Homo sapiens: one gene and its partners. The protein of the gene in region 1 interacts with the protein of each later gene in a pairwise test. Each region holds a gene or a part of one and is shown on either strand. Other genes may lie near its edges.

Region 1 (3,500 bases):
ATCACTTGGGCCCAGGAGGTCAAGGCTGCAATGAGTCATGACTGCACTTCCGCCCAGGTGAGGGAGAGACCCTGCCTCAAAACAAAACAAAACAAAAAAACCAAAAACCCAAAAAGACACAAAAAACACATATTAGCCTAGGCCTACACAGGGTCTGGATCTTCCACCTCCACATCTTGCCCCACTGGAAGGTATTCAGGGGCAACAACACACATGGAGCTGTCATCTCCTGTCACACCAATTGCCTTCTTCTGGATTCCTCCTGAAGAACCTGCCTGAGGCTGCTTTACAGTTGACTTTGTTTCTAGTAAGTAGGCAGAATATGCTCTTAAAAGTATAGCAAATACACAAAGTAGTAACAGTCGTTTATCATCAATTATTACGTACTGTATGGTACTGTACGTAACTGTAGGTGTATACTCTGGTATGACTGGGGCAGTAGGTTTGGTCACACCTACTGCAGCACCACAGACACGAGTAATACACTGCCCTCAACATGGTAGCTCCAACGTCACCAGGTGCCAGGAATTTTTCAGCACCATCATAGTCTTATGGGACCACTATCATATTGTGGTCTGTTGCTGACCAAACTGCATCCGGCAGCACAGGTACAGGCATGCCCAGATGGCCTTGGTAATTTCTGTCAGTGGGATCACAGCAAACACACTCAGTCTGTTGGTCAGGGAGTGTGCAGGAAGCCTGGGGGGCCAGCGGCATCTATTCCCAACTCAGGCATCATGCCAAGACAGTGTCTTCTAAACTCTGAGTAGGAACTGTTCTGGGTCATTTCACAGTCTTTCCTTTCAGAAAACAACAGAGAACTGGGAAACCAGAAGTCCCCGAGCAGGAAAAGCCTCAAAAGAGAGAATCGGCGGGGCACTGTGGCTCATGCTTGTAATCCCAGCACTGTGGGAGGCTGAGGCAGGGGGATCACCAGAGGTCGGGAGTTCGAGACCAGCCTGACCAACATGGAGAAACCCCGTCCCTACTAAAAATACCAAAAAAAATTAGCCAGGCGTGGTGGCGCGTGCCTGTAATCCCAGCTACTCGGGAGGCTGAGGCAGGAGAATCACTTGAGCCAGGGAGGTGGAGGCTGCAGTGAGCTGAGATCGCGCCACTGCACTCCATCCTGGGCAACAAGAGCGAAACTCCATCTCAAAAAACAAAAAAAGAGAGAAAATCACAACAATCAAGCCCAACCCAGAGCCCTTCACTCCCAGTTCCTCTGCTCCCCCAACTCCCATTCAAGTCACAGACTAGAAGACAGATACTGAGCGGCTACAGTCGCAAGCGCCTCAGGGGCAACTAGGACTGAAACTCTAGCACCAGAAGCACAGCAAGGCGGGTGAGGCCTCTCTGAGGGAAGGACCCCCACCACACGGCAACAACCCCTCACAGCCCATTACAAGTTAAACCAACCTAACAGGCAGGCATTCTCCTAAGACTTTCTAAACCATTCTAAGTATGACAGTTTCACACAAAACACGGTAGCCTCCAACTGGCTACTACAAACCATATCTAGATTTTTCTCTTTTAAGTACCCAGGGTTAGGTTGGGCACTAGTGGCTCATGCCTATAATCCTAGCACTTTGGGAGGCTGATGCGTGTGGATTGCTTGAGCCCATGAGTTCAAGACCAGCCTGGGCAACACAGCAATATTTCATGTCTACTAAAAATTTAAAAATTAGCTGGGCGTGGTGGCACATGCCTGTAGTCCTAGCTACTTGGGAGGTTGAGGTGGGAGAATCACCTGAGCCTGGGAAGTCGAGGCTGCAGTGAGCCATGATCACATCATGCACTCCAGCCTGGGCAATGGAGTGAGACCCTGTCTCCAACAAAAAAGGACCCAGAGCTATTGATATGCCCACTATCTTAACTGTGGCCATGGCTCCAAAGGTATGTCTGTGTAAATCAAAAGTTATAAAACCATACTGTATACTCTACATATGGAGCTAAGACACCCACTGACATAAAAATAATCGATTTGTAAAGAAATCCTCCCAAACAACACAAAAGCTCCGACTTTATAAAAATATTTTTGGCTGGGCACAGTGGCTCATACCTGTAATCCTAGCACTTTGGGAGGCCAAAGCAGGAAGATCACTTGAGCCCAGAAGTTCAAGACTAGCCTGAGCAACACAAAGAGACCCTGTGTCTACAACCAACCAATCAATCAATCACCAGGTGTAGTGGTGCATGCCTGTAGTCCCAGCTATTCAGGAGGCTGAGGCAGGAGGATTGCTTAAGCCCAGGAATTTGAGGCTACAGTGAGCTATAATCATGCCCCTGAACTCTAGCTTGGGTAACAGCAGGACCCTGTCTCCAAAATACACACACACACACACACACACACACACACACACACACACACACACACTTTTAAGTGTACTGATGCAACCTCCCTCCCCCTTTATTGGCTAAAATTCAGTACATAATACCATTAAAGTACTAAAATAATAAGAACACACTAGAAAACAAGAAATTCAAAAAATTAGTTAACTTCCTGCCATTACCTCTATCCAAAGGCCCATCACTAAAGTCAAGTCAGTTCTGCCCAGAGGAAGGGCAGATTCTCAGAAGGCAACCAAGAGACAAGAAACAGAAGCAGGGTCGGAGCGCGGGGCAGCGCTGCCGAGGCTCCACCTGTACAAGGTTTCTTGGTCTCTAAGCTGCTTGATTCGCCAAGTGCAGTAGGAGGGAGGGGGATGAAGGAACATTCTAAGAAGTTCTAAGACACCTCAGAAAAGGGCAGACTAGTTTTATTCCTTCACAGAGAAGAGGTGAAGCCTGGTTTTACTTTAAAGTAAACATGCCCAGTAGCTGAGGGCTACTTGGAGTGGCGGAGGAAGGAATGTGAATCACAGCACACGAAATGGAGCACTCAGAGCATCTGCTTTGTGCTGCCCCATGAGGCCTGCTCACCAAAGTGAGGAGCTCACAGAGGTGCAGCCCCTCATCCAAGCCAACGGCCTGGAGGTAGGAAAGTGAGGCAGGGGAAGTCTGATTCCCGAGTTGGACTCTTAGACATAAACAGATACCGCTTCTCTTGGGAGTTTTGCTGCAACAGCAGCACAGAGGAGAGAGAGCAGCTCCCAGTAGATTTTAACCAGGGCAACTGTATCCCCCAAAAAACATCCACCAAGACAGTTTTGCTTGCTACAACTGGGGATGGGGAGAAGGAGTTGCTAATGGCATCTAGTGGGTGGGAAGCCAGGGAGGCTGCTAAACATCCAACAATGCACAGGACAGCCCCCAAAACAGAATGTTCCCGTGCAAAATGTCCACAGTGCCAAGGCAGAGAAAGCCTGAATTACCTAAGAAAACAGGGCAGCTATGACTCACTGGGCCCTGCTGTATCAGGTACTGTCTCAGCGCTTTATGTGCACCATCTGATGTCATCCTCCCAACAATTCTACAAACAGTTACTACTCTCTCTCTTCTACAGAAAAGGAAATTGAGGCAAGAGAAGGCAAGCCATGGACACAGGCCAGTCAGTGGTG
Region 2 (3,500 bases), on another chromosome or scaffold:
AGATTTCAATTGTTATGTTCAAGAATGCTAACAGTATTTTCTCACCAAAATTTGTATTTTTTATTTATCTTTTTTTTTTTGGAGAGAGACCTACAAAAGCTACTAGTCTGGTATTATTTGGTGGGCCTAAAAGTGCACCTATTTGACTAAACGCATATATATGAGGGACTTCTGTTTCCAGGCAAGATATAGTAACAGGAACCAGATTCACCTTCCTGCTGAAACAACCAAAAAACTGGCAAAACGTATCAACAAGTTTCAAGCCACTGGACATCAGACAACTAAGGACAAATGACACAGAGTTGGGAACAACTGAGGTGAGCCTATAACTGCCCCCACTCACTGGCTTGAGAGTCTCCAGACAACTCCATGAGGAGACTAAGCAAGAGTCCAGGGAAACCGAGGCAGCCAAAGCTCAGAGAGTCCTGGGAGAGCTGCCACTCAAATATTCAGCTGAACCCTGATCGTTGCATACTTGAGAGAAAATTCCAGAGGCCAGGGAAGGAACCACCCAAAAGGATTCCAGGTCAAAGTGCCTGGCTCTAGAAAAGAACAAGACTGAAAGACTTGAAGGATTCCCCACGGGTAAGGGACACAGAAAGGTCTTGCCTCAGTGGTAGGAAAAAACTAAACCTAATCTAAGCATTGTTCCAGTACAACTAAATACATTTTAAAAGTAAGACCAAATGCCTTAAATTATTTCCAACTAACTTAACTGTGTCCCAGGACAAAGCTCAAAGATATTTATAGGAATATAAAAATATCCACCCAACAAGGTAAAAGTCTGGCATACAATTAGAAATTAACGGGCATGCAAAGCAGCAAGAAAAATGCAATACATGAGACCACCTCCCCCCCAATCAATTCACTCAAACCAATCTAGAAGTGATACAGATGTTATTATAAATAGACAAAGACATTAAAAGCTCTATGTGTGTGTGTCAAACACTAATGCATATAGATACTAATACAATGAAAACTGAGGAACATTTATAATCAAATATTTTTGAGAAAAGCTTAAGAATAAAAACTAAAATTTGACTTGCCGCAGAAACCTCTATACATGGAGAAAAGCCAGAGAATTTAAAAGGAATAATTATTTTCATGATAGAAACAAAGTTGCAGTATTATTTGCCATTTTGCTTTATTGCAAGAATACATTTTTAAGGTGTAAAACACTTGGCCAATGCGTACTCTTACTAATTCAACAACTTAAATGATAGTTAAAAATATAAAAATAGGAGAAAGCTACATCTACCCTGTTTGCTTCAAAATCAACATTTTTGCTTACACTTTTAAAAACAATTGAAGGAGCAAAAATTTTCAAAGATGGAGAAATTAATGGAATGGTGTACTTACACTCCCACCAAAAATTCTTCTACAACACTGCAGAGTTTAAAATGTACAAACTCAGCCGGGCACAGTGGCTCATGCCTGTAATCCCAGCACTTTGGGGGGGCCGAGGCAGGAAGACTGCTTGAGCCCAGGAGTTCAAGGCCAGCCTGGGGAACAGTCAGACCCTGTGTCTATTATAAATAAATAAATAAAATGTCCAAACTCGTAAGAAGTAAGAAAATGGGAAAGGAAACCATTTAAAAATTAAGAATCTAGAAAGCAGATGGTTAACTTAAAATTTACCTGACTCTAGTTAAGAAAGAAACTTATTTCCTTGCAATCCACCCCAAAAATACTGAGGAAATGGGCAGCAGTGAAAACAGGGGTGAGGGTGGGGCTGAGATTGCAGGACTAGATGAACTCTCATTAAAAAGCAGTTCAATTCCCATATCCCCTGTCCACAAATGGCTAGCTATCAAGCACTCCCTAATTCCCAGCAGTAGACCAGAAACTGATTCTGAAAGGAAGTAAAACACTTGCTCAAACTGCATTAGGAGAACAGTTGACAGGGTAACTTCCACTCTGACAGCTGGGCTGGCCGGCCATCTCCCCTGCTCCAAATGCAGAGCAAGGGAACCCAGGCCCACATCTTGGGGACAGGAGACTTGAACAACTGACCCTTCAGAGAGTTAATAAAAGACGCTACAATGCTGAAACAAGAATGCTCTATTTAAAAATTTTGAATACAAATAGAAACTCCTGCAACTAAAAACATGAGAGCAAAGATGAAAAATTTGATAGAAGGTTGGAAGACAAACTGAGGAACTCTCCAAGTAGCAAAAGACAGAGATAAAAAAAAATGGTGCAGAACTGTATAATATTAGAGGACTAGTCCAAGAGGTTCAGAAACTGAAATGACGATGTCCAACTACCAATATAAAGAAAAAGAAAGCAGAGGGAGAAAAATCATCAATGTTATATATTTTTCGCAAAACTGAGGGATCTGAGGTTCCAGATGAAAAGGACCCACTGAGTTTTCACCACAAGGAATAAATGAAGCGGACACTTCAAAATCAAACAATGTAGCAATTGAAAGTAAACACTAAAAGCACCTCTTTTAGTGTTTTGGAGGGGGTGCAGTGTGAAGAGAGAGACCGACCAACCCGTTTTCCACATCAGGCCTCAGAAAATCTTTCATCCATGTGCATATCAAATGTCACACAAAAAAAGGCTTTGAGGTCATGCTACGCAGAAGCCATGAAGCCATATTCATTCTACTGTAGTCCATTCCAGCTCAAGAAGAGTTAAATTCCTTCAGTGAGTTTGCAGCTTAGTAATTATTTAATACAAATACTATTTCTCCCTGTGATCTCATTCTGTTTCTTAAGCAGATTATAAAGGCAATCTGGGATTGGCAAATTTTATAGAGAAATCAATAAAACACACCCCAAAAGGTCCTCTTTTAGTCATTAAGGATAGATGCAATTATAGGATGGTTACTTCTGAACTTAAAATATCCATAGTAAGAATCCACTCACAAAACCCATTTTCTCACTTAAATACATCAGGACAAAGAAAAGGTTGAAATAAGCAGACAGGAGGGATGATGATATGGACGCACACCAAAAATGCTGTATTTATTAGAAACTGTGTTCTACGAGGCATTCGTTTCTTTTTACAATTATGTTTCAAACAATCTTTCAGGGGTTAATAGCTGAGATACTGATGTGGAAAAAAATAGCTCATGACTACTATAATGTCTGTTTTACAGTTACCATTTGCAATATCATTTCATAATATATGTGCTACTAAATCTTCAGCAACATAGAAGAACACAGTTTTGCATCAATATAATCCCAAATTTACATTTTCCAGCACAGTACTGCCCCCTGATTTCTAGACCTCCAAATTCAACTGCCAACTAGAAATGTATACTTCAATCTCTAAAGCAGTCTGAACTCCACATGTCCAAACTGGGGTTCATACCTCCCTGCTGCAAATCTGTCCACAATTAATGTCTCAGCTATTACTCATCCTGAATGAATTTTCTGAATCAGCGTGGATTTTTAGAATTTGAGGCTTTGTAGGAAATCTCTGAAACACAGTCATGGCTTACTTGTGCTTTGACAGAGACTGGCTGCTGCACATGCACCCATTCACATCTA
Region 3 (3,500 bases), on another chromosome or scaffold:
ACCAGCAATTTATGAGTTCACTTTTCCACATACCCATTATAGTAATATATGCTAGAACTATGTTCATTTTTGTCAGTCTAATGGGAATAAAATAATATCTCATTTATACTTTAATTTGCATTTCTCTACATTTGGAGCAGTTTTTCATACTCTTTTGGCCATCTGGATCTGTTCTTTTAATTGAATATTCGATTTTTCTGTTGAATTGTTCATCTTGTCAATTTGTAAGAAAATTTATATATTATAAAAATTAGCCCTTTGCCTGTCATCTGCATTATGAGTATTTATCTGGTATTTATCTGTTGAATGTGTTTATATTACCTTTTGCTAGAGAAAATATTTTTTAGTAGTCAGAAATGTTTGTTTTCTTTTTTAGAGACAGGGTTACCCAAGCTCTGTTAACCAAGCTGGAGTGCAGTGGCGTAATCACAGCTCACTGCAGCCTTGACCTCCTGGGCTCAAGTGATCCTTCTGCCTCAGCCTCCTGAGTAGCTGGGACTACAGGTGTGCACCACCATGCCTGGCTTTTTTTTTTTTTTTTTTTCACTATTGCCCAGGCTGGTCTCAAACTCCTGGGCTCAAGCAGTCCTACCACCTCAGCTTCCCAAAGTGTTGGGATTACAGGCATGAGCCACCACACTTGACCTAGTTTTATTTTATAGCTGCTGGTTTCCAGTCTTGGTTAGAAAGTTTTTCTTAGAAATATAGGGGATTACGGCCGGGCACGGTGGCTCACACCTGTAATCCCAGCACTTTGGGAGGCCGAGGCGGGCAGATCAGGAGGTCAAGAGATTGAGACCATCCTGGCTAACATGGTGAAATTCTGTCTCTACTAAAAATAGAAAAATTAGCTGGGTGTGGTGGCGTGCACCTGTAGTCCCAGCTACTTAGGAGGCTGAGGCAGGAGACTCACTTGAACCCGGGAGGCAGAGGTTGCAGTGAGCCAAGATCGTGCCACTGCCCTCCAGCCTGGTGATAGAGCAAGATTCCGTCTCAATAAAATAAAATAAAATAAAATAAAATAAAATATAAAATAAAATAAATATAGAGGATTACATGTATAATACAAGGATTGGGGCTTTTTTCCGACAAGAATATAATAAGTTTGTGATTTTTTAAAAATAATTTTTGTATGACTGTTACCTAGACCAATGTTAGGTGAATTTGGGTAGTGATGAGAGACATAGAGAATAATTTGAGAAATATTTAGGGATAGCATCTGCAGTAGAATTTGGAAATTTTACAGAGATGAGTTCTGTCTGCCCTTGTGCCATGCAGGTTTTCAAAAATAGGAGGTTTCATGTTAAAATTTTGATTTTGTCTTTTCTTGAAAGTCAGATCTGGCCATCCGGGGCCTGCATTCCCTACTGGCCCCGTTCGAAGATAAGCAGTTACCTGCTTCAGACAGGGCATGCACTTCCCAGTTTGTTCAGTCCCCACAAAGCCCTCTTTCTGCCCAGCATTGATCTGGGAGCCTGGAGCCACTTTTCTTGGAGGTTGCACTTTGTTTTCTTAGCGTTGTGAGGGATATGCATGCAGTATTCTTACACTAGTGACTCTCAAAAATGGACTGAACAGGTGTCTGAAAGGGCTGCAAGGATCAAGATACCTGTGAAGCATAGCTGCTGTAGGCATTAGCTTGTGCCTCGATCCATGGGACTTTGATGGACTCTAAGAAGCCCTTGTGAAAGTTACTGATGATCTCCTGATTTCAGTCCCTGTATTACTGGACCCCTCAGCAGCTTTTGATCCTGATACCTGATTTTGAGACTTTGCTGATTCTCCTTTCTCTCTTGAGGGTTTCTTGTTTTCCCTTCCTCCCCGGGTTGTGCTAGTAGCTGCTCTCAACTACTCACACTCCCTGGGGAGATTCCTACACTTCCTTGATTATAACCACTACCTGGGGACTCCCTAATACTAGGCTGTAACCTTGACTTTGGCCTGAGTTCTCAGCTTCTGACTCGTGGAGCTGGTTGCCTCTGGACCACAGGAATCTCAAACGCATCATATCCAAATCCAAATGTCATGGTCAGTCCCTCCAACCCCTCCTCCTCTTGTCTTACATCCTATCTCAGAGATAGTCCTAGAAGCCAGGCCATTGATTTGGGGATCCTAGACTCATCCCTCTTCCCAGCCTTCATTCCCCCTTCTGTCAGTCACCAAATTTCTGCTAATTTTACATTCTAAGTATTAGCGAATCTTGCCGCTCTTCTTCTGTATCTCTACCCACTGCCTTGCTCAGGCCTTTGTTATCTTTTAACTGGACAATTGCAAGGGCCTTCTTCTAACTGGTCTCCCTGCCTACAGTCTTGCCTCCAGCAAATCCATCCTCCAATCCTGATGCCAGAGTGATCTGAAATGCAAATATGATCTTGCCACTCCCCTGCTTAAAACCCACCAACCGCAGTGGTTCTGTAACCACAGTGTAGCCTCTGACGTGGGCTGAAAGTAAGTTGTTACTACTCCTACTACTACTGCTACTATTAGTACTACTATTTCTACTAATATAAATACTAACAATAGTAGCTAACATTTACTGAGCATTTTCTATTATGCTTTTGAATGATTTATTACCTTTTTAAAACAAATCATAGCCAATTCAATGTTTTCCAAATTGTACCAGTCTCATTTGCTTGGGGTGAAGGAGAGGGGCAGAGTTACAGGCAGCAGGCACCTGAAAAATACTCATAACCATAAATGATCTTATCACATACCCTAGTGAGTGACCATGATGATTTAGCCTGAAGAGTTAAATAGGAATTACCATAGTCCTCATAAACAAAGATTTGCTTTTAAGGGAGGGTGTCAGTCATCTAGATCTTGAATATGTCCCTGAAGTATGTGGCACGTGGGAATGTCCTCAGGCTCCTGGGTATCAGTAGAGCGGGGAAAACGACTGCAGACATGCAGAGTCAAGTCCAGGCTTGGCCTGTTGTGCAAAACTGTCCATGATCTGGTCCCTGCCCACCTCTGCTCCTCCTGCCACTCCCTTCCTTGTGCATTTCACTCTAGCACAATGAAACTGTATGTGATACTAATCATGGCTCACCCTTACTGAGGTCTCCTATGTGCCAAGCACTGTGCTAAGTGGTTCTCTGCCGTGTCAAAATCTCATGTAAACCTCACAGCAACCCTACGAGGTAAGTCTCGCTTTCCTCCAATTTTATAGAGGAGGAAAGCGAGGCTCTGAGAGGTGAGGTCAACTGAGCTGACCTGGCTAGAGTTGTCAAGTGGGCCGCCCCCCTCTGCCCCTCCCTGCACATGTTCTTGCGTACCTCTCACATCTGCTTACACTTCGCGCTCCCTCTTGTGCCCAGGTAATGCCCACTCATCCTCAGGACTCAGTTCTTATGCTGCCTCCTGGGAAGGCCTTCATGGACACCTCCTCTGCCCCCAGACTGGGCTCAGTGTCCCTCTGTGGCACTGAGCCCCTCTGTGGCCGATGAGCTGCCCTCCAAGCACCACGCTGGAATGTATATGTTCAGTCTGTGTGCTCCTCG
Region 4 (3,500 bases), on another chromosome or scaffold:
AACAAAACAAAAAACACAACAACAAAATAAACAACCTTGTCACTAAGTCTTTTCCAAAAGCAAAAAACCCTTCCGTTGAAGTTAATTATCCACCACAAAGCCTCTAAACCTGTTAAAGATAATTTTTCAGATCAGCTTTCTCCTCTCTGACTAAAGCATATTAATTTTCAAAATCTTTTAAATAAACCGTTTTTTTTTTTTTAAAGAGATGGGGTCTCGGCCAGGCATGGTGGCTCACGCCTGTAATCCTAGCACTTTGGGAGGCCAAGGTGGGCTGATCACGAAGTCAGGAGTTCAAGGCCAACCTGGCCAGTATGGTAAAGCCCCGCCTCTACTAAAAACAGAAAAATTAGCGGGCGTGGTGACGCGCGCCTGTAGCCCCAGCTGCTGGGGAGGCTGAGGCAGAATAGCTTGAACCCGGGAAGTGGGGGTTGCAGTGAGCTGAGATCATGCCACTATACTCCAGCGTGGGCGGCAAAGTGAGGCTCTGTCTCAAAAAAAAAAAGATAGGGTTTCACTATGTTGCTCAGGCTGGTCTCAAACTCCTGCTTAAGTGATCCTCTAGCCTCTGCCTCCCAAATTACTGAAGTGATGGGATTACAGGCATGAGGCACCCACCCGCCCCTCCTCCCTACCTTTTTTCAGACAAGGTCTCACTGTCGCTCAGGCCAGAGTGCAGTGGTGCAATCACAGATCACTGCAGCCTCGACCTCCTAGGCTCAAGCAACCCTCCCACCTCCACCTCCTAAGTAGCTGGGACCACCACACTTGGCTAATTTTTGTATTTTTTGTAGAGACAGGGTCTCCCTATGTTGCCCAGGCTGGTCTCGAACTCCTGGCTCAAACAATCCTCCCATCTTGGCCTCCCAAAGTGCTGGGATCATAGGTGTGAGCCATCATGCCAAGCCTAATTCTTAAAATCATTAATGTTGCAGCTTGAAAACTAAGTGGCAATGGCTTTACTATTCTTAGTCAATTTTCCTAATTTAAATTGAAAGTTCATAATGATAATAACAATGGCTATTAATTATTGAGAACTTACTATGTGACAGGTACCATGAGTGCTAAATGGTCTACATGGACTCTCTCACTAAAACTTAGCAAGTCACTGGGACAGTTGCTTTTATTATCTTCATTTACAAATGAAACTGTGGAACAGAAAGTAATATGGCCAATTATTAGTGGAGAAACTGGGATTCAAATTGGTACCTGAATGCAGACACCATACTCTCACTCAGATACCAGGTTAAGGCAGTCAAGAAACAAGCAGAAACAGCTGAATCTCAGGGTAAGACTCCCCATAAATGTGCAGAAAATCTGCCCTGAAATTCCAGTTATGTAAATCAGAAGTTCCCCCTACCCTTGCTGCATTTACTTTTGCTTTAAAGAGAGAGAATTCTTCACTATAAATCTTTTTTTAATAAAAAATCCCCCAGCAGCCAGGAACGGGGCTTCTCCCCACCTTTCTCAGTGGTGCCGGTCCCGTTCTCTATCCCGGTGTCTCTCATGCTCCCGGTTCCTTTCTTGGAAATAATCATCATGCCGATCTTCATTATGAAGCAGATCCCGGTGCCTCCTGCTGCTCTCCCGGGACCGGCTAGGTGACCTTTCCCGGGAGCGATGTCTTTTCCTATTAGAAAGATCCTTCAGCCTCACTCAGAAGGCCTACCACTTTCTTTCCAAGAATGTGGTGTTTTGGTGTCTTCTGATATTTGCCTAAACTATTCCTCTATTACTCTATCATGGGCCTGCTGTCTGAGGATTTTAGCTCTTTGAGGACTACTCTTTTTTGGGAAGATGATTAACAGGTAAATTTATCTGTTGAGAACTAATTTATCAGGTGTAGTGCTAATAATTTTGTATGGATTATCTGACCTAATCTTTACAACAGGTCTGTAAGATAAATACTATCAGTGTCCCTTTTTTAGAAAATGAGAAAAATAAGGCTTGGAAAGTTGACTAACTTCCATACACAAGAAGGTCATACAGATAGTTAGCAGCAGAACTGGGATTCCAATCCAAGCTTGTAGGGCTCCAAAACCCATGTTCTTAAAAATATCTGTCTGTATTTTTTCCTACATGAGCCCACTGCCTCACCCACCAGATTCCAGATGTTACAACACTTATTAATGAAAGCATCTGATTAGTTTCTTCCCCAAAAAGACATGAAGGCTAACGTCCAGACTTTCGGCCAGGTCTTTCCCAGATTCCCTGGGCTCCATTTGTCCCCACTCCCTATCCCTGGAAGAGTGCTGCTTGGGGCTGGTAGGTGAGGACACAATCACCAACTCACCTGGAAGAGCTCCCACTGGCACCCACACTGTAGGACTTGGCTTCGATGCCATGAAGACAGTCCTTAAGAGAGGAGATGAGGACACGGCAACGCTCATCATTGGCAACCCGGGACTGTTTGATAACCGCAATGGCTGTGAGCAGCGTCTCAATTGCGTCACTGTAATCCCCTGATAAAGGATGAAGGAGAAAGGCCAAGGGTGAGGAGAGATGGTAAACTAACTGGACCAAAAGGAGAACTCAGGCAGACACAAACCAAGAGTAGCTAGCCGTCCCAAACAACCGCGGTAAAAGAGACAAGGCAGATGTTGCAAGTGTAAAACTGGATGACACCTATATTCCAGCAGTTCGGAATTTAACAGATGTTGTCAGATGAACAAACTGACACACTGTTGTCCAGGGGCTATTTGACATCTATTAAAATAAACAATGTGCATATTTTTTGAGCCAGCAATTCTATTAAAAATTTTCTACTTCTGTTCACAAGTGTGTATGTTTAACAGTGTTTTAGTGTTTATTTTTTTTCATTTTTTTTTTTTTTGAGACAGTCTCACTCTGTTGCCCAGGCTGGAGTGCAGTGGCCGTGATCTCGGCTCACTGCAAGCTCCGCCTCCCAGGTTCACGCCATCCTCCTGCCTCAGCCTCCTGAGTAGCTGGGACTACAGGCGCCTGCCACCACACCCAGCTAATGTTTTGTATTATTAATAGAGACGGAGTTTCACCGTGTTAGCCAGGATGGTCTTGATCTCCTGACCCTGTGATCCGCCCGCCTTGGCCTCCCAAAGTGCTGGGATTACAGGCATGAGCCACTGCGCCCGGCCAGTGTTGTTTGTTATATTATCTTCAATAGGGTCTGGCTATATAAAGGAACATTGGTTCTACAGAATATTACATTATTAATGTACTATTAACAATTAAAAAAGCAGGAGGTAAACCTGTATGTAAACAAAGTAATCCATGTAAAGCCCTTAGCACAGTGCCAGGCACACAGTAAGGATCAATAAATGTTATGTTATATGTTGATATAATAGGTGTCCAGAATATACTAATTGAAACAAGCAAGTTTCAAAACCATATCCTGTTTTTGTAAAAACAATAAAAATTATATAAATTGTCATATGCATAGAAAAAATTCTGGAGGAATATAAACTATAAAAGGTGGTCTTATTGGTTGATGGTCCTTGTATAGAGGACTATTTTGTTTTTGA

The links. Proteins that work in one complex are often made in the same cells at the same time.
Region 2: the proteins of YTHDF1 (region 1) and QKI interact in a two-hybrid assay, tested with the Homo sapiens proteins (one large-scale study listed by BioGRID).
Region 3: the proteins of YTHDF1 (region 1) and MOV10 interact in a two-hybrid assay, tested with the Homo sapiens proteins (one large-scale study listed by BioGRID).
Region 4: the proteins of YTHDF1 (region 1) and CPSF7 interact in a two-hybrid assay, tested with the Homo sapiens proteins (one large-scale study listed by BioGRID).

What each region holds. Positions count from the first base shown.
Region 1 is NC_000020.11:63,209,632-63,213,131, forward strand, and holds part of YTHDF1 (YTH domain-containing family protein 1), read right to left. Parts: intron 1-3,500.
Region 2 is NC_000006.12:163,529,718-163,533,217, reverse strand, and holds part of QKI (KH domain-containing RNA-binding protein QKI), read right to left. Parts: intron 1-3,500. UniProt on the Homo sapiens protein: RNA reader protein, which recognizes and binds specific RNAs, thereby regulating RNA metabolic processes, such as pre-mRNA splicing, circular RNA (circRNA) formation, mRNA export, mRNA stability and/or translation.
Region 3 is NC_000001.11:112,684,659-112,688,158, forward strand, and holds part of MOV10 (helicase MOV-10), read left to right. Parts: intron 1-2,307; exon of another isoform or gene 2,308-2,448; intron 2,449-3,500.
Region 4 is NC_000011.10:61,409,476-61,412,975, forward strand, and holds part of CPSF7 (cleavage and polyadenylation specificity factor subunit 7), read right to left. Parts: intron 2,463-3,500; coding exon 2,294-2,462; intron 1,631-2,293; coding exon 1,468-1,630; 3' UTR 1,463-1,467; exon of another isoform or gene 1,106-1,462; intron 1-1,105.